3 separate regions of the Homo sapiens genome follow, and all the other regions are linked to region 2. The links come from fine-mapping of genetic effects on gene expression. A gene starts in region 2. Each other region holds a variant in brackets. All regions are shown on one strand. Distances are between the middles of the regions.

The links.
Region 1: its variant is fine-mapped to the expression of NDUFAF8 in whole blood (INTERVAL, PIP above 0.99).
Region 3: its variant is fine-mapped to the expression of NDUFAF8 in thyroid (GTEx, PIP 0.98).

Annotation. Positions count from the first base shown.
Region 1 is chr17:81,279,814-81,286,601 of GRCh38, reverse strand. SLC38A10 (solute carrier family 38 member 10) reads left to right here. Exons shown (of 16, transcript NM_001037984.3): 3 at 1,707-1,752; 4 at 3,100-3,193; 5 at 4,270-4,413; 6 at 5,869-5,993. Among named protein-coding and RNA genes, the nearest start is that of SLC38A10, 12 kb to the left of the region's middle. RefSeq lists a silencer at 659-953 and enhancers at 780-1,109, 4,200-4,713. The variant C/T (reference allele first, on the strand shown) is at 4,145.
Region 2 is chr17:81,236,446-81,242,210 of GRCh38, reverse strand. It overlaps NDUFAF8 (NADH:ubiquinone oxidoreductase complex assembly factor 8), which reads right to left and starts at 2,893. Exons shown (of 3, transcript NM_001086521.2): 1 at 2,764-2,893; 2 at 2,533-2,643; 3 at 901-1,224. The coding sequence starts at 2,847. The coding sequence ends at 1,195. TEPSIN (TEPSIN adaptor related protein complex 4 accessory protein) reads left to right here and starts at 3,156. Exons shown (of 13, transcript NM_001363764.2): 1 at 3,156-3,225; 2 at 4,752-4,824; 3 at 5,140-5,231; 4 at 5,410-5,503. The coding sequence starts at 3,178. RefSeq lists enhancers at 2,327-2,406, 2,787-3,006, 3,250-3,832 and silencers at 2,667-2,816, 3,059-3,274, 3,377-3,466.
Region 3 is chr17:81,214,660-81,221,447 of GRCh38, reverse strand. It overlaps CEP131 (centrosomal protein 131), which reads left to right. Exons shown (of 26, transcript NM_014984.4): 2 at 1,375-1,568. The coding sequence starts at 1,392. Among named protein-coding and RNA genes, the nearest start is that of CEP131, 4.9 kb to the left of the region's middle. RefSeq lists an enhancer at 1-122. The variant G/A (reference allele first, on the strand shown) is at 3,106.

The sequences.
Region 1 (6,788 bases), 44 kb before region 2:
GGTCCCCGGGACCTTGCTGGGCGCTTCAGCCTCTTCCTCCCTTTCTCTGTGCCAGTCCACGCAGGATGTGAAGGAGTGGGGTCAGTCCAACTGGGGCTGGTGTTTGAACCTGGGGAGGAGAAGTTGCCGAGGGATTGACACTGGGAATGGCGGGTGAGGGTTTGGCCCAGGTGGGGAAAAGAAGGCGCGTGGGGCCGTGTCTCAGCGTGGTGGGCTCTCAGGACGTTGTCCTGGGAACCAGAAGAGAGTGCTGCCCTGATTTCCTAGACAGCCTCCCATTTTCCCTTGCCAGTGGCAGGCATATTCCGGAACCTTCTTGGGCAAGGTGCGCTCGTGTTTGGAATATGCTGTAGAGACTCAGCTTCCTTTTGGAGAATGAAAAGGCACATTATGGCCAGGAGCAACTTCATGTTTGGAGCGCCGTGTTTTGTTGCTTCCGGGCTGTGCCGTCACTGAGGGGTGTGGAGGGCGTTCCTTGGTGACAGCAGGGCCCTGGGCTGTGGGCTGCTGAGGGGGCTCCTGGAGTTCTTAGTGTTTGAAACTCTCCACAGCCTCAGGTCAGCTTCTGGGGCCTGGCTCGGGTTTCCGTGTTGTGGGATGAACTCAAGGGGTGCCAGGCTTCTTCAGCGAGCCCATAGGCAGGTCCAGGAAAGGCCAGGGTGAGCCCTGGAGGTGGGGTCTTTGCTGCTCCCGGGCTCTGGCGTTTGGCAACGCTGTGCTTCTTCCTAAGTAGTTTAAAGTAATAAGGAGTGTTTTTTGGACCCATTCATAGTTACTAGCCTGTGTGTTTCCTGCTTTCCAAAGCTCATCAGAGGCCTGTAGCCCGTGGGAGGAAGGAAACCAGGGGCAGGAAGCTGGGGCTGCCGACGGGGCTGGGCCATCCTGCCACATGCACCGCATCTCTGGGTGCGCCTTGGAGCCGGGACTTCCCTTTGCCCTTCTCCGGCTGGGCCGTGGGGGAAGCGCGGGGGTCACCAGATGACCGCTCGGGGCCTGGGAGGGACCCTGCTGAGTCAGCGCCGTTTCTCATCTGCTGCAGAGAATCCCGCGGTCAGGGCGGAGAGAATGGCGGCTCCTTCCGCATTCGGCCGCCCCGTCGGGAACGCATGCTCCTCATCGGCAAGGCTCCTCATTAGCTGTCCACGTGGACACCACAAGCCCAGGGCTCTCGTCCCCTCCCTTCCTGAAGCACCATGCTCGAAAGGAGTCTCCATTTGTTTCTATAAATCCCAACCAAAGGGTGAAAATGAAAGCCCTCCGTCAGAGTCCCTCTGGTGCAGGCTGTGGCGCTCGGGTACCTGGGACCGGCACTGAACCCTCTGGGGACCTGCAAGCTCTGGCCAGCAGCACGGGGTTCGGCCGTGCTGGGCTGTGGGATGCTGTTTCCAGCCGGCCCCCAGTGGTCACCGGGTGGGAGGACTGCATCGCAGGGACTTGTCTCTTTGTCTGTTAAAAAATCTGATTGAGTGAAAGAAGAACCTGCCTCCTGTCCTTCCCTTGCTCTGTCTTTGTTTCTTGTAGTTTCATTTGCAGACAGTAGATCCAAAAATAACCTGGCAGCCAGAATTTGAAATACCCCTCATGCCCCGGAGAATCTGGGCCCGTGGGTTTCTGTGAAATCGCCCTTGACAGCTTGGCTCAGTACCTTTGTTCTGGACGAGCTTCTCACGCTGTTGGATTGAGTGTTCCTTTTTCTTTTGCACTAGCATTCCACGCCTACGGGAAGGCAGGCAAGATGCTGGTGGAGACCAGGTAAGCCCCGCCCTGCCGCTGCGCTTGCCCCCCACCCCCGCACCCAGACACTGGGGACCCTCCCGGTGGGAGCGGCAGTTTCATCCCCAGATTCACCTGTAACTTAGGTTTCTGAAGAGTCGCTAAATACATGAAAGTCCAATTACTTGTACCCTTCAGTGTTGTAAGAAAAATTTATGTATGGAAAACTCCAAGAACCTGGTAAACAGTCCTCCCTCAGTTGTAGTCTCTCAACACCATTCCTCAGCACCTCACCTACCCCTCAAACACCGCTGCATAAAGGTGGCATTACATTGCAAATGTCATATTTTTCTTCCTTTGGCATAAAATTTCATGAGATGAAAAAATTTATGAGATGAAAAAATCGCTGGGAGATTGCACTTCTAGGCTTCTAAATTAGGGAATTGTAAACTCAAACGAACAGCCTTTTTTGAAAGCAGTTGATTGTTCTCTTAACTTGACTAACATCGTGGGGCTTTTTCAATTTTTTTATTTTTTGAGATGGAGTTTTGCTCTGTCACCCAGGCTGGAGTGCAATGCTGTGATCTCGGCTCACTGCAACCTCCCAGGTTTAAGCGATTCTCCTGCCTCAGCCTCCGAAGTAGCTGAGATTACAGGCGCGTGCCACCAGGCCCAGCTAATTTTTGTATTTTTAGTAGAGACAGGGTTTTGCCGTGTTGGCCAGGCTGGTTTTGAACTCCGGATCTCAGGTGATCCGCCTGCCTCGGCCTCCCAAAGTGCTGAGATTACAGGCGTGAGCCACTGTGCCAGGCCCATCATGGAGATTTTTGTAACTTTTAGAGCCTCCGCAGAGGGGCGAGTATAATACCAGGCTGAGAAAAGCTGAGTGTCGTTTGGTGTGCATGCCAAGTGACATAGCGAGCGCCACAGAACCTGCCCGCGCCCTGTGAACTGGGGCGCGTTTGAAATCACATCTGTTGGCCAGGCACAGTGGCTCACGCCTGTAATCCCAGCACTTTGGGAGGCTGAGGCAGGCGGATCACAGAGGTCAGGAGATCGAGACCATCCTGGCTAACACGGTGCAACCCCGTCTCTACTAAAAATACAAACAATTAGCCGGGCGTGGCTACTCGGCTACTCCCAGCTACTCGGGAGGCTGAGGCAGGAGAATGGCGTGAACCTGGGAGGCGGAGCTTGCAGTGAGCCGAGATCTCACCATTGCACTCCAGCCTGGGCGACAGAGTGAGACTCTGTTTCAAAAAAAAAAAAAAGAAAAAAGAAATCACATCTGTCATTCAGCCCAGCCTTGGGGTAGTCCCTGGCGGCAGCCCAGGTGTGTGCCAGCTTGCCCTGATGGCATTTCCCGTACCCCCCGTCCCTGTGCAGCATGATCGGGCTGATGCTGGGCACCTGCATCGCCTTCTACGTCGTGATCGGCGACTTGGGGTCCAACTTCTTTGCCCGGCTGTTCGGGTTTCAGGTAAGGATGTGTTCAGGGTTCTGGGTTGTTCAGATGCTGACGGCTGCTCTGAGGCCCTCTGTGGGATCCTCCCGAGGACCGAGACCTGGGTGCTGGTCGGGAGAAGCTTCTGTCGAGCCTGCTGTCATTCTAGGGGCTTGGTGGAGTGCGGGGGCTTTGCTGGGTCACGTCTGTGAGAGGTACACGCGAGGAAGCAAGCCAGGCAGAGTCTGACACCATGTAGATGAGGGGCGGGTGGGGGAGCCTCAGACCCGGGCACAGTGCAGAGCAAGTCTCTGCCAGCCCGGGCTGCCCATTGGAGGGCAGAGGCGGCCAGGCCCTCAGGCATCCCCGGCCTCCATGGTCACCCAGAGCTTCTGGGGGCTGTGGACTCAGCACTTCTTGCAGGGACCTTGGGGTAGCCTCCTCCGTGCTTGCCCCCCACCACAGAGAGGCCCACCTGACGGGCCCACACACCTTTCCCTCGCTGCCGGGGAGCAGAGCCCCTCACTGGGCAGGGCAGGCATCACGGCACGTTAGGGTGCTAACAGCGTAGAAAGGCTTTCAAAGGCCACTGAGGCGGGGGTGTCCTCTCCAGGAGTGGAATGTACCAGATTCGCTCCTTGTCAGAGACAGTTCCAAGGAGCATCCAGGGAGCTAGGTCCCCTACTCTGTCTCCCCATTCGACCTTCCGTTTTCCGTGCTTCGTAGTGGCCTTTGTAGCTAGAGCTTTGGGCCCGTCCTGCCCACAGGGCAGTCTGCACCTTTCCCACCCCTCGCCCAGGGCAGCTGAGTCCGACTCACAGCCACTGTGTTGCCTCCCGTGTTAGGGGGGCTGCTGTCCTGCTCTGGCTGGTCTCGCTGTGGGGCTGGGCTGGGCTCCAGGGAGGGGAAATACCCAGTGTCCGAGGCTGCACACGGCACAGTGGCTGTGAGAGCGGCTTCGGGCGAGTGTGCCAGCCTCAGACCCGC[C/T]GGCGTCATTCACCTGGATGCCGTCGGCTTTCGGGCTCGGGGCGCTCCCACTCCCTGTCAGTGCAGAGAGCCCGGTGGTGAGCAGGCACGGGCTGTGGCCAAGACCCCCTGCCGGCTCCCCGCAGGTGGGCGGCACCTTCCGCATGTTCCTGCTGTTCGCCGTGTCGCTGTGCATCGTGCTCCCGCTCAGCCTGCAGCGGAACATGATGGCCTCCATCCAGTCCTTCAGCGCCATGGCCCTCCTCTTCTACACCGTGTTCATGTTCGTGGTGAGTCGGCAGCGCGCGTGGGTACCCGCTGAAAGGCTGCTCCTGGCCCATTCTTTCCTGTGGCCACAGCAGGCTCGTGCCCAGGTCTGGTGTGGCCGCCTGCTGCCTCCTGGGAATGTGTTGGAAGTAGCAGGATGTACCAGGAAGTGCCATTCATCTCATGGTCCCTGGGCACCATGGGGCAGACGGGGCTGGCTGGACCCAGGTGCGGTTGGCTGGCAGGAGAGGCTGGGGCTCAGGGCAGGGGTGGCTCTGAGGCTGGTTTCATGTCGTCCAGGCAAGGTGAAGGAAACTCCAAGTCCACTTGCTTTATGCAAAGATGTCTTATGTAGGGTTTGTGACCAAGGCTCACGGTGCCAGTGTTTTGACACAAGGTGGCAAGCTATTGTTGTTTGTTTGTTTGTTTGTTTTTTGAGACGGAGTCTCACTTTGTCGCCCAGGCTGGAGTGCAGTGGCGCAATCTCGGCTCACTGCAACCTCCATCTCCTGGGTTCAAGTGATTCTCCTGCCTCAGCCTCCCAAGTAGCGGGGATTACAGGTGCCCGCCACCACACCTGGCTAATTTTTTTTATTTTTAGTAGAGAAGGGGTTTCACCATCTTGGCCAGGCTGGTCTCGAACTCCTGACCTTGTTACCCACCCGCCTCAGCCTCCCAAAGTGCTGGGGTTACAGGCATGAGCCACCACGCCCGGCCGCTATTATTTTTCTAAATGAGAATTTATAATAGGATGGACTAGGGGCCAGCTGTGGAGTTGGCACTGAGAACACGGATACCACCCAGAGCCCCCAGCACACCCTCCATTCTCTGCCAGGCCCCTGCCCATAGGAGCCCCAGGACCCGAGCCCCTGGGACCTTCCTGTTCCCTGGCAAGGTCAGAAATGACCCTTCCTGAGTGGCTGGAACCTGGGTGTCTCACAGCGGGTTTGCACCAGGACGAGGCCAGGTGGTCATTGAAGCCAGGGTCTCCAGTGCTCCTCAGCTCTCCGAGTGAGGGCCAGCCCAGTGGCAGCTACCTCTTTACTCTTGAGACAGCCGCGTCCTGGTGGGCCAGTCTTTTGGAAAATGTCCATGTCTAACACAGTACAAGATGGGGAGGGACCTGCCCACGTGGGAAACCAGCCTCTGTAACCGACGGAAACTGGGGCCATGCATGCTCAGTGGTCTCCTCCCGTCTGCGCCAAGCAGCCCCCTTGCAAGAGCAGCTGCTCTGGTGCCCGCGGGATGAACCAGGGTGCTCTGAGGCAGGGGTTGGGAATCCAGAAAGGCGCGGGGTCTCCCTGCCTCCAGCTGGCGGCACAAGGCGGCACAGGGCGGCACAGGGTGGTGGGGGGCTGGGATGTGGGTGGGAAGAGCTGCACTCTCCTGCCACTCCTTCCTAGCGGCGCGTGGGCCGGGATGCTGAGTCCCGCCTGCGTCCTGACCTGCCCCGTGCTCTCTCCCCTCTCCCTCTGCAGATCGTGCTCTCCTCTCTCAAGCACGGCCTCTTCAGTGGGCAGTGGCTGCGGCGGGTCAGCTACGTCCGCTGGGAGGGCGTCTTCCGCTGCATCCCCATCTTCGGCATGTCCTTCGCCTGCCAGTCGTAAGTGTCCTGCTGTGGTCTGTGGTGGAGTTCTGTGACGGGGAGGGCGAGCTGCTGGGAGACGGGACCCTCTCTTTCTCGTTTACTGTGATCGCTCTTTGCTGGCTGCTAAAGAGTGATGTCTTGTTCAGTGATGACCTTTCCCGCCCCAGGTTGAGGGAGATAGTTATATTTTAATCGGGAGGTAAATCGGCTTCATTCCTGGGACATGTTTGGGACTAGCTGGTGAGAGTCCCTGGTTTGCCAGATCCCCACAAGCAGAGCATTGGCTGTGGGGGATGCAGCAGCAACCCAGCCATCTGACTGCACAGAGTCGAGCGCTTCGCCAGAATTTAGCTGTTCTGAGAATATTTAAAAGGAAATGGCACAAACATTGACTTCAGACGGCTGCTGGATGCATTTGGAGGCCTGCATGTGCGCGCGAGCCTGCTTTCTCTCTGGCACGCAGGGCTCTGTAAATGTGGATCGGGCTCTTCCATAATTCCAGCAGCATTACCTTCTCCACCAAAATGACAAGAGCGAGTGATTCGTGCCCGGTTGGAACATGGTAACCGGCTGAAAAGAGAGGCGTAAATCCGGCGCAGACGGGAAAAGACCATCGGCATGCGGGGGGCTGGCAGAGCGGCCCCTGTAGCGTTAGTGGGCATGCATTGAGCCAATCGTAAACTAATGTGACAGATGAAATTTGTTCATACCGCTGTGTTTACACCCACATGCGAGATCCAAATCGTCATTTCCCACTTAGCGTCTCTCTTGGCAGCTCCATCTCCACCAGAACGCGCCCCAGTCTTGCTG
Region 2 (5,765 bases):
GCTGGGGAGGCGGGTCGGGTGGTTTGTGCCAGCGCAGGGCATCTGAGTCTGGCATGCACAGGGATGGACTGCGGTGGCTTGACCCCAGGAGTCTGGTCTGGATTTCCGTGGTTCCCAAGATGTGACACTATCCTGGCCCTTGGGACAAAATCCAGCACTCTGGCCTGGCTCCTGCAGACCCACCACCCAGATCAGACCCTTAGGGGAAACCAGGTTAATTCTGGGGCAGCATCTGGAGGAGGAAACATGGAGGAACAGACCTCAGCCCACGGGGTCAGCCGCTAGCACGGGCCTGGGGGCAGGCGCAGGCTGCAGCCCCAGGAAAGTGCAGCCTCTGCACCCCGGAGCAGGGGGGCTCTCAAAGCAGTCCCCGCCACGCCCTGCAGGTGGCGCTCAGGCCCCATGGACTCCGGGGTCTCACCATCAACAAGTGCCCGGGCAGAGTCAGGATGTGGCCCTTCTCACCTTAGTTTTAGGTCAAGTGATGTGATAGGGAGGGGGAACGAGAGGGCAGGCGCCATCGGTGAAGTACCTGGGCTGCCGAGGGGGCGACCAACCCCACACAGGAGGGGCACTGGCTGCTGGTGCTCTACGCAGGCCCCTCTCGGAGACTCAGGCCCTTTTGTGAAGAGCCTCCGCCCTGCCCCGTGTCCAGGAAAGCCACCTGCGAGGACCCTGCCCCATGGAGTGTCCCCTCGTGGTGCTGACGTCCTTGTCTTTGGTGTGTGCTGTATACCCACAGCAAGGTCTGCAGGCTTCACCAGATTCACATTAAATACCTTAGTGAGAGTGTTTTAAAACGGGGACCTTGAGGCAGGGTGTCCCCAAGTCCCAGCCCTGCCAGCTTTGGGGGAAAGGCTCTGGGCCCCATTCCATCTCAGAGAGGCCAAGACCCACATGTTGCAGTCTGCACACAGTAAGCCCCAGGCTGCAGGATTTGACCGAGTCTTTATCGTGGCTTCCGTTACATCTTATTCTAACTCAGGTTTACGGACACAATGCTGGAAAACCAATTCCTGCTCTACCCACGCCTCAACTTGTTAAGAAAAAACAGGATCTAACACCGAGGAATGTCACATCTTCGCCATTCCCACTTCCTTTCTGCCCTAGGCATTCGATATGTGCCACCAGGGGCCATCAGGACTAGGGCTCTGCACCCATGGCAGCAGACAGGTGTGAAGCTCAGAGTCCCTCCTAACAGCCTCCCTCCAGCGTCTTCTTGGCCTGCAAGATAAAGTGTTTTGTCTGAATGGCTTGCTTCCAAGTTAGATACGCCTCAAAAGCAAGCTACCACACCACACGTTGTGTTCTACCAAATACCTTACAGAGAACTTGGGTGCTGGCATATGGTGGGGGCTCGACTGGTTGGAGCCTGGGGCCCCATGGGCAGGTTCTCTGGGTCACTTGTCCACGGGACAAGGGCCTCATGACACTATCACAGAACTCACTGCTGCCCCCTCCTCTGAGCCCCCACGAGATGCCACATTTGGTCTCAAGCTCTCATAGAGGGAAAGCAGGAGCCCCCCCCCTTTTTTTTTTTTTGAGATGCAGTCTCACTTTGTTGCCTAGGCTGGAGTACAGCAGCGTGATCTCGGCTCACTGCAACCTCCACCTCCCAGGTTCAAGTGATCTTCCCACCTCAGCCTCCCAAGTAACTGGGACTACACCACCATGCCTGGCTAATTTTTTTTTTCTTTTTTTTTGTAGAGACGGGGTCTCCATATGTTGCCCAGGCTGGTCTCAAACTTCTAGGCCTAAGCAATCCACCCACCTCAGCCTCCCAAAGCGGTAGGATTACAGGCACGCGCCACCACACCCAGCAAAAAGTGCAACTTCTGATGAGTTGTCCACCCCTGGATCCAAGGCTGCTGGGGCCGGGTAGGGATGAAGGCCGTGGAACTCTTGTTCAAATACCCTTTCTCTGGTCCAAATCTCCGGATTAACAGCTCCCAGTAAACAGAGTCAGCACTGGCATCAAGGCCTACCCAGATACACTGAGGTGGTACCCGGTGCGGCTGACACTTAGGGAACCAGCCTCAGAATGACTTAAAGCCCCACGGGCAAGAAGCCCTATCGTGCCAGTTGTGAGGGTGGCTGGGGGTTCCCCGCAGGACACGTGCTGAAGGAATCCACCACTGCAGGTGCACAGGGGCTGCAAGTGCCAGGGAGGTGAAGACCCGGAAGGTGCTGGGCACTTTCCGGGAGTCCTGTGTTGGGTCAATCCTGGCATGACACCCCCCGGCGGCAGTGCTAACACGAAAGCTTACGCGTTTTACAAGGCGCTTTTTTGCACACATCTCCCATCCTTTCTGAGGTTGGTGCCAGTCCCGCTTTACAAACATGCAGGGACAAGCCCAGGACGGCCGAGGTTTCGCGGGCTCGTCGATGGCTCGGTGATTTTGTCAGCCGGCGTCTAAAGCACGCGGCAGGCGCTCAAACCTTGAACCAACGGGAAAGCAAAGGAAAGCCGGGGCCCGCTGGCTCTTGGAGGGGAAGGGCTGGGAAGGGGGGAAGGGGCCCGCGCCCACCTACCGCAGCGGCGAAGCAGCTCCGCAGGGCCTCGAACTCCCGCGCGCAGAAGTCCTTACTCAGGCGGCCGCCCGGGGCCGTGGAGGCCTGCACGCACCTGCCGTACGCCGCGGCCTGCGGAAAGGACGGGCGTGGGTCGTGGGGTCCCCTGACCCCGTCACCGTCCTCCCTCCCAGCCACCTCCCCGCGCGGCTCCTCCTGCCCCGCAGCACTGGCCCGCCCGCGGCTCCTCACCTCGGCCCCGCAGGCGGCCAGCCGCTCGGGGAAGGCGCGGAGGCGGCTTCGCACGCGGCCCCACACCGCTCCGTTAGCCGACATGAGCGGCTATTCCCAGCCCCCTGGAGGCCGCCATCTTAGGTCCGTCCTCTTCCGGTGTCAAACAGCTTGATAGGTCGGCGCTTCCGCCCATAACCTTTCCTGAACTTCTTAATTGGCCAGGCTTTGCCTGGCCTCGAGCCCCCGCAATTGGCTCTTGTCCTAGTCTGTCTGTGCTCTGGGACTTCGGATTGGCCTAGGCTCCAATTGTTTACGAAGCCAACCTCAGGGCCCGCCCTACCGTGAGGGATTGGCCGGCGGACCCAGACCCGCGCAGTGATTGGAGGGCCCGGGCCTGGCGGAAGCGGGGCAGACCGGGAGGGGACCTGGATCATGGCTGCCGCGCCGCCGCTACGGGACCGCCTGAGCTTTCTACACCGGGTGAGTGAGGGCGGTCCGCCCGGGCCCCGGTCCCACGGCTCCTCTCGAGCGCCGCATTCCCCGGACTCGCCCCGGGCCGGAGCCATTGACCTTGCGTCTCCGCGCCGGGTAGCTGCTCCTGGCCCCTTCGCCCGCGCCGACGCCCCTGAGCTGCCCGCCCGCCGCGCCGTCCCGGGGCCTTCCAAGCCGGGCCTTCCAAGCCGGACCCGCCGAGCGCAAGGGCGATGGGCACAGCCAGACCCTGGGGGAACGAACAGGCCTCGGCCAGCATTCAGTGGCCTCCGACGGGAGGGAAGGAGCGGCGGACCCGGTGGACGTGGAGCCGCTGTGTCCGTGCTGCTGGCGCCCAGGTGGGCTGGCAGCCCGCCGTCCTCCCTGACGGTGGCGTTTCAGAGGACTCCGGTCCTGGAGAGGCACCCCTGGGTTGCAGAGAACACAGACGTCTCGAAGGGACAGAGAAGGACGCACCATTGTAAGCCCCTCTTAGTAAACCCTCTGAGAAGTAGAGGCCGGGGCGAGTTCCCAGGTGTCGTCCTGAGCAAACTGCCCTCTTTTGTCAGCCCTGAGCTTTCCTGGGCTGGACCTCAGAGGGGGCTGGGTGGTCCCAGGGCGCGACCTTGGGCTGCCAGAAGCCACGCTAGGGTTGGTCAAGGCTCTCAGTGCAAGGTTTCGACATAGTCGTTCTGTGCTGCGTTCTGCAGTTGTCAGCTGTCACCTGCAAACCTCAGCAGCTCCCCTTAGGGCGTGGTGGGCAAACAGTGTCAGTGATGCGTGTCCACAGCCTCGGGAAACACTTCAGGTCCACGTTTTCGTATGTTGTCACTAGATCTCGGCCCTTCCGACCGAAAGGCTTCGGCACCTCACGCGGTGGGTCCCATGCTTGTCCTGTTAAATACTCTTGAACTCTATTCTGTCCTGATACTGAATAATGCAAGAATGGGTGGTTCCAGTTTTCATCCCTATAAACCGTACATCTTTGTGCCAGTAAGTAAGCATGAAACAAATAAGTACGTCTGCGCTAAGCGAACGTAAAACACACGACATCAGTCGGTTCTCGGGGAGCGATGGAGCTAGTCACGCTGAGCGGCTGTCACTCTGCCATTCCGGCCTCTGGGGAGGTGGAACGATTCATAGTCCCCTGTGTGGAAAAGGGGCTTGCCTGGGCCTTGTTTGGCTTTGCTAGTCAGTAGGTAGGTACAGGAGAGGTACCTTCAAATAGCCTTACATGCTGGTAAGTGCAGGGAGGCTGGGGGCTGTGTCCCTTCTTAACCCAAGTGGCGCAGCTCCTCCGTGGAGAACCACCATTGATTTGCCTCTTCTCCGAGGCTGTTCATCCCTGACTGTTGAGAGAGGACCCTGCTGCAGCCTCCCTGTGGCCAGTAGCACAGTTCTCATCCCTTCCCAGTCCTCTCTCCGGCCATGTCAACAGTGAGAGGTGGGTCGTTTCCATCCCCTTTGGGGGGCTGCGGATTCACCCCTGTGGGAAATGGCACCTCATCATGGTAGGGGCTCTTGTTCCCTTTCAGCTCCCGATTCTCCTGAAGGGGACGTCCGATGATGATGTCCCGTGTCCGGGCTACCTGTTTGAAGAGATTGCTAGTATCCTTCCTTGATGTCCCCGTGTAGTGGAAAGAGCGGATGGCAGGGTCCCAGAGTGGTGCAAAGGGTTCCTGGGGATTCTGCTGTCCCTAGGGGGATGCACGGCTCCTTTATTATTGTAACCAGGCATGGGTGGGGTCTGAAGGCTGCAATACTGATGACACAGGGGACCCTAGAAGCCCAGGTGCTCCTGATGGCAGAGCCTCCAGTAGGCGCCTCCAGGGAGCGTGAACTGAGAGGCCCCATGGCCTGGTCTCCCTGCGGCCTGGCGCAGCCCTCATCATCTCGCCCTTCCCTAACCCGAGCGTGCCGCAGAAATCTCCCACGAGTCTCCGGGCAGCAGCCAGTGCCTGCTGGAGTACCTCCTGAGCCGCCTGCACAGCAGCTCCGGCCACGGGAAGCTCAAGGTGAGCCCCTGGGTGGTCAAGGGTCAGGCCTGAGGCCCGGCCCACGGTGGTGAGGATGGAGGAGCAGACGAGCGGCCCAGGGTGGCAGGCAGCTCTGTGCCCTTGGGGTGCCCCCGGGCCCTGCCCTGGGTGTCCCGTGTCCGGCCTGCCCAGCACTGCTGACCGCCCCACTCCCCAGGTGCTGAAGATCCTGCTCTATCTGTGCAGCCACGGCTCCTCCTTCTTCCTGCTCATCCTCAAACGCAACTCTGCCTTCATCCAGGAAGCTGCAGGTACAGGGGCCGCGCACGCGCTCAGGAAGAGCCAGGGCTTTGGAGAATGGGGGAGGGTGGCGGATCCTCCAGGTTTGAGAAGGAAGACTTCAGCCAGAGCCCTCACCTGGGCCGGGTCCCGATCAAAGCCCCGCCTTGCTGATCCTGGCCCATCTCTGGCCTCTCCACCTGCTGCCCACCCTCACCCCAGCTGGCCGGCTCGGCCTCCCCTGACGCGCCCTGCCCCCTCCCTCCGCTGGGTCCTCCGTGCCTCCTATGCGTC
Region 3 (6,788 bases), 21 kb after region 2:
CCTAGGAAGCTGTTGCAGGGTTTTTGGCAGGGGCACATGCACGAGCTGAGACCCGTTCAGAAAGATCAGAAAGACTCGTTCAGAAAGAGGTGCCATGTGGGGACGGGCTGGGGGCCGGCAGGGTTTGCTCTGAGAAGTTCCAAAGTAAGGAAGCCAGCATCCCCAAGCTAATCCCCTCGATCGATCGTCAGAACCCCCGTCCCCTGCTGGAATAACACATTACCCAGGGAGTGTTTGCCCGGTGCAGCCTTGAGGCCTTGAGACCAGCATCTTGTCTGGACCTCACAAAACCACTCCCGCGTTTTTTTTTTTTTTTTTTTTTTGAGATGGAGTCTCGCTATGTTGCCCAGGCTGGAGTGCAGTGTCACGATCTTGGCTCACTGTAAACTCCGCCTACCAGGTTCAAGTAATTCCCCTGCTTCAGCCTCCCAAGTAGTTGGGATTACAGGCGCTCGCCACCACGCCCGGCTAATTTTTTGAAGTTTTTAGTAGAGGTGGGGTTTCACTGTGTTGCTTAGGCTGGTCTTGAACTCCTGAGCTCAGGCAATCTGCCTGCCTTGGTCTCCCAAAGTGCTGGGATTACAGGAGTGAGCCACTGTGCCCGGCCAACACGCAACCCCTTTTTAAAATGTGTATTTTTACTTAGGGGCCGGGTACGGTGGCTCATGCCTGTAATCCCAGCACTTTGGGAGGCCGAGGCAGGCGAATCACCTGAGGTCAGGAGTTCGAGACCAGCCTGGCCAACATGGCAAAACCCCGTTTCTACTTCTACTAAAAATACAAAAATTAGCCAGGCGTGGTGGCGGGCACCTGTAATCCCAGCTACTCAGGAGGCTGAGGCAGGAGAATCGCTTGAACCCGGGAGGCAGAGGTGGCAATGAGCCGAGATCGCGCCACTGCACTCCAGCCTGGGTGACAAGAACGAGACTCTGTTTCAAAAACATAATAAAATAAAAAATAAATCAAATGTCCCTTTTACAGAAGAAAACAGTGGGGCTCGGGGCAGTGACTTTCTCAGAATCACGGTGTGGGGTAGATGGCAGAACCTGGCTCACATCGACAATGGCCTGTGGCCCAGGCTCCCTCTGGGGTGCTGCTGGCTTATTCCCACCCACGGGCCTTGCCCTCGCCACCCACCTGTCCATCATCCAGGGCCCTCCTGCCCTGGCATACACTGACATTGGGCTCAGAACAGCTCCCTCATGTTCCTGTCGAGGAGCCTGCCACCAGCCAGAGGGGTGCATAGGTTGTGACAGGCCTTCCCAGGAAGTTTGGTGGCCAGTGGACCCAGCTGAGGCTGGGCTGGAGATGGTGGGTGCAGGGGACTGTAGTTCCCCCACGGCATCTCATTGCAGCTCTTGCTTCCCCGCTCAGGACCTGCCTTGTCCACCATGAAAGGCACCCGGGCCATCGGCAGCGTCCCGGAGCGCAGCCCAGCAGGTGTGGACCTGAGTCTGACAGGTCTCCCTCCGCCTGTGTCCCGGCGTCCTGGCAGTGCCGCCACCACCAAGCCCATCGTCCGCTCTGTCTCCGTGGTCACAGGCAGCGAGCAGAAGAGGAAGGTGCTGGTGAGTACTGTGGCCTAGGAGTCCGGGCCCCTGCCTCCTGGAGGGCTGTTGTTCAGTTGGCATCTGACCCCTGGGTCCAGCTCCACAGGTGAACAAGTGCCTCACATCTGGACATGCTGGATCCTCGTGGCTGTTCCAGGAGGCAGGTAGGACTTGAGTCTTACAGGCGTGGGTGCTGAATCACTAGAAAGTCAAGCCAGAGCTTGGATTCTTTCAGCAACAGCCCCAGGCCTCCTGTGCCACCGCCCTTTGGATTTGTTTGAATCCTCAGGAAATGGGGTTGGCTGGGCTCGGTGGCTCACGCCTGTAATCTCAGCACTTTGGGAGGCCGAGGCAGGCGGGTCATCTGAGGTCAGCAGTTCAAGACCAGCCTGACCAACATGGTGAAACTCCGTCTCTACTAAAGATACAAAAAAAAATTAGCCGGGCATGGTGGTGCATGCCTGTAATCCTAGCTACTCGGGAGGCTGAGGCAGGAGATTTGCTCGAACCCAGGAGGCAGAGGTTGCGGTGAGCCGAGATCGTGCCGTTGCACTCCAGCCTGGCGACAGAGTGAGATGCCATCTCAAAAAAAAAAAAAAAAGAAAGAAATGGGGTTGACCTGTGGGGAGGGGTGATGAGCTCCTGGTGGCCTTGGAGAAACCTAGACGGGTGTGTGGGTGTGTGGGCAGCAGGACAGCCGTGGGAGCTTCGGGGTGAGAGCTGCCTTTCCTGCCCACCTCTGGGAGTAGGGAGGAGGGTGGGTGGTTCCCAGATGGGGGCTGTGAAAGGCAGGCCGGGCCTGCTGCACCCTGAGTTGGTGTCTGCCAGGCCCAGTCTTTGGGGCAAGGGAGGAATCGAGCCGCTCTGTGGGGGTTGGGGCAGAGCCTGACCAGAGTCTGGCCTGAGCTTCCGAATAGCAAGGGCCTGGGGGCCTTGGCTTCCATGCGGCAGCCGGTCTGGGGCTCCCTGCCTGAGGTCCGTGCCAGGCAACATAGCAGGGCAGAGAGAAGGGGTCTGGAGGGCAGTTGAGGCTTCCCACAGGAACCCCTGGCAGGCCCAGGCCAGGGTTCCACTGTGAATAAAAGGCTTGGACCTCCCCCTTCTCCTTGAAAAAGTTATTCCTGTGTCTGCCCTAGAAGCACCCCCAGGTGGGCAGGGTGTGGCCCGCCAGACGGCTAGCCGAGTTCCGGGGTAAGGGCAGCCGGGCCAGTAGCGGACCCTTGGACCAAGCAGGTTCCCAAAGCCTGGGCCAGCAGGGCGGGGACCCGGGATGTCCTGATGTGTCATTGTGGCCGGCAGGTTGTCTAAAGATGTGGTACGCCTCTAGGCATTTACAGACGTAAGCTGTGAAAATAAAAATATGCTGCACTGTTTTAGCAGAGGGGTAACCAGCTTGGGCTAGAGCCGTCTCTGAGCCTGCTGCCTCTCCTGTCCGCAGCCCTGCTCCTGCGTCACTGACCCCCTCGCCCACCTGCCTTGGCCCCTCCCGCTGTTTCTAAAGCCCTAGGTTCATGGCACATGGGGCGGGGAAGACGCACTCGAAATCGCAGATCTG[G/A]GCTGGGCGAGGTGGCTCACGCCCGTGATCCCAGCACTTTGGGAGGTTGAGGCGGGTGGATCACCTGAGGTCAGGAGTTCAATACCAGCCTGGCCAACATAGTGAAACCCTGCCTCTACTGAAAATGCAAAAATTAGCCGGGCGTGGTGGCGCGCACCCTTAATCCCAGCTACTCAGGAGGCTGAGACAGGAGAGTTGCTTGAACCCGGGCGGAGGAGGCTGCAGTGAGCCGAGATCATGCCACTGTACTCCAGCCTGGGCGAAAGAGCAAGACTCTGTCTCAAAAAAAGAAAGAAAGAAAGAAAGAGGGAGGGGGAGGGGGAGGGAGAGGGAGAGGGAGAAGGAGAAAGAAAGAAATTGCAGCTCTCTTGTTGTGTGGAGACTGTTGTAAAAGTTTCCGGGCTTTCTAGTAGATGGTCTTTCGGCGGCATGGCCAGGCTCTATCCGCGGCCGACCCAGGCACCTAACCACACTCCCAGCCTTTCTGCTGGGAAATGTTCTGTTGCTGAGTAGAGGTTCAAAGCCACAGCGAGCGCTACTCATATCGATCCCTCCTTTCCTCGGCTGGTACCATTGCCCGCTCCCGCAGTGTTGAGTGGCGACTGCTAACAGTCCCCTCGTTCATGGAATGTTCCAGCTGTTCACTTCAATTCTTTGAGGCCCTCGCTCGATCCGAGACGGCCCCACCCCTGCATGCCTGTCTGCCTTCTGTTGTGCCCATGGTGGGAGCTCGGGAACTGCTGGTGGAAGAGGAACCCCCGCCAGTGTGTGACGTGACCTCAGGGGTTTCTGTTGTGCCCGGTCCCCATCCTCTCGGCCACCTGCCCTGCTACCACTCAGTCTCATCGGGATTCCTGGAGAGCATTTGTTTTGGCCAGGCATGGCTTCACACCTGTACAAGGCGGCACGTGATTCTCTTCCTCCTGGTGTTTGTGGGTGGGGTGGGGTGCTGTCCCCTGGCTCGGAGACCTTCTCGGTGGCCATTGGCCTGGGGTTTCCACTCTACCCCTTGTCTCTAAAGATCTTCCTGCGTCCACGGCCTGCTGTCCCGGGATTCCCCATCCAGGATGTAACTGCAGTTCCTGCTGGTCTTCTGGCTCAAGAGATGTCGGTGCCAGACTGTAGAGGGTCCCTCTTCCTTGCCCCAGCTGTGTGCCCACCTGATCCTCTAGCCCCCTAGATCATTATTCACTCTGGTTCCCTTCCCCTTAAAGAAAAGAGGTCTTTAAATCCCAAGAGCACAAGCTCACTGGGGAACAGACATCACTGTGCATATGTGTCATGGCCATGGGGGCCACCTGCCCCTCCCTGGGCGATGTTGCCTCCTTCTTGCAGGTGGAGTTTAGGGTTTTTAGTCCATGACTTGATTTACCATCTGAGCATGAGTGGTGCCTTTCCACCGTGGTGTCCGTCAGTGAGTGGCAGCCCCTTCATCCCTCCCCTGACATCCCTTATCTTCCTCTTGGAGGCTGCGAAACTGACCCCAGGAAAATGGAGACAGGATGAAGGGCACCCATAATCCCATGGCCCTGATGCAATGACTGGTGCCATTTTGGGGGATGATTTCAAAATTCCTACCATGTGTTTTGAATAGGCCATTCACACCCACCATTTGGGAAAAGGGGGCTCATTGAGCAGTGAGCCTGTCCTGCCCGACCTTGCGGGCCTCTCCTAGGCGGCCACTGTTCTGTTTCTCCTGCACCCACACTTACTCTGGGCACACAGGCATCAGTGATGCTGGAGATGTGTTGGAACAAGTGCCGTATCCGTCAGCTGCGTGGGGCTCCTGCATTCTCTTTTCTTTTTCTTTTTAAGACGGGGTCTTGCTCTGTTGCCCAGGCTGGAGTGCAGTGGAGAAACCACAGCTTACTGCAGCCTCCACCTCCCGGACACAAGTGATCCTCTTACCTCAGCATCCTGAGTAGCATGGATTACAGGTGCTCACCACCCTGCCCAGCTAATTTTTAATTTTTTTTTTCTTTTGAGACAGACTTTTGCTCTTTTTGCCCAGGCTGGAGTGCATTTGTGAGATCTCGGCTCACTGCAGCCTCTGCCTCCCGGGTTCAAGGGATTCTCCTGCCTCTGCCTCCCAAGAAGCTGGGATTACAGGCATGCACCACCATGCCCGGCTAATTTTGTATTTTTAGTAGCGACGGGGTTTCGCCATGTTGGTCAGGCTGGTCTTGAACTCTTGACCTCAGGTGATCCTCCTGCCTCAGCCTCCCGAAGTGCTGGGATTACAGGTGTGAGCCACCACACCCAGCCTACTAATTTTTAATTTTTTTGTAGGGACAGGGGTCTCACTAGGTTGCTGGTCCTTAACTCCTGGGCTGAAGCGATCCTCCCACCTCGGCCTCCCAAAGTGCTGGGATTACGGGTGTGGGCCGCTGCACCTGACCCTGCTCCCGCTTTCCTTACATTGTTTTGTAGCAGCTGACAATAGTTCATCAGATGATGCACCAGAACTTCACCCAGTGCTCCTCTGGATTTTCCTTATCATAGTACCAAGAGTGGCACAGCAAATACCCTGTGTCTTTGCCATTTTGCATACATGTAAATACGCCTGTAGAATAAATCCTAAAGGATAACTACTGGGTCAGAGCATAAGTCCATTTAAAATTTTGAAAGGGGGGCCAGGTGCGGTGGCCCGTGCCTGTAATCCCAGCACTTTGGGACGCCGAGGTGGGCAGATTGCTTGAGGTCAGGAGTTCGAGACCAGCCTGGCCAACACGGTGAAACCTCGTCTCTACTAAAAATAGAAAAAATAGCTGGACGTGGTGGCAGGCACCTGTAATGCCAGCTACACAGGAAGCTAAGGCAGGAGAACTGATTTAACCCGGAAGCTGGAGGTTGCAGTGAGCCAAGATCGCACCACCACACTCTAGCCTGGGTGACAGCGAGACTCCATTTCAAAAAAAATTAAATAAATAAAAAAATTTGAAAGGGGGCCGGGAGTGGTGGCCAATATCTGTAATCCCAGCACTTTGCGTGGCTGCGGTGGGAGGATCACTTGAGGCCAGGAGTTTGAGACCAGCCTGGGCAACATAGTGAGACCCCTGTCTCTACAAAAAAATTAAAAAATTAGCCGAGTGTGGTGGTGCATGCCTGTAGTCCCAGCTACATGGGAGGCTGGGGCAGGAGGATGGCTTGAACCCAGAAAGTTTGAGGCTGCAGTGAGCTATGATCATGCCACTGCTCTCCAGCCTGGGCAACAGAGTGAGACTCTATCTTTTAAAATTAAAATTAAAACTAAATTGTAAATTTTTGGCCAGGCGCGGTGGCTCATGCCTGTAATCCCAGCACTTTGGGAGGTTGAGGCAAGCAGATCACGAGGCCAGGAGATTGAGACCATCCTGGCTAACACGGTGAAACCCCATCTCTACTAAAAATACAAAAAAAAAAATTAGCCGGGCGTGGTGGCAGGCACCTGTAGTCGCGGCTACTCGGGAGGCTGAGGCAGGAGAATGGCGTGAACCCAGGAGGCGGAACTTGCAGTGAGCCGAGATCGCGCCACTGCACTCCACCCTGGGCGACAGAGCGAGATTCCGTCTCAAAAAAAATTTTTTTTTTTGATAGGCATTGCCAAGTTGCTGTCCGTAAAGATCATTGCCCTAAGTCACACTCGCATCACAGGGTGCCACGGGGCCTGCTCCCTCGTGCTCTGGTTGGCACACGTGCAGCAC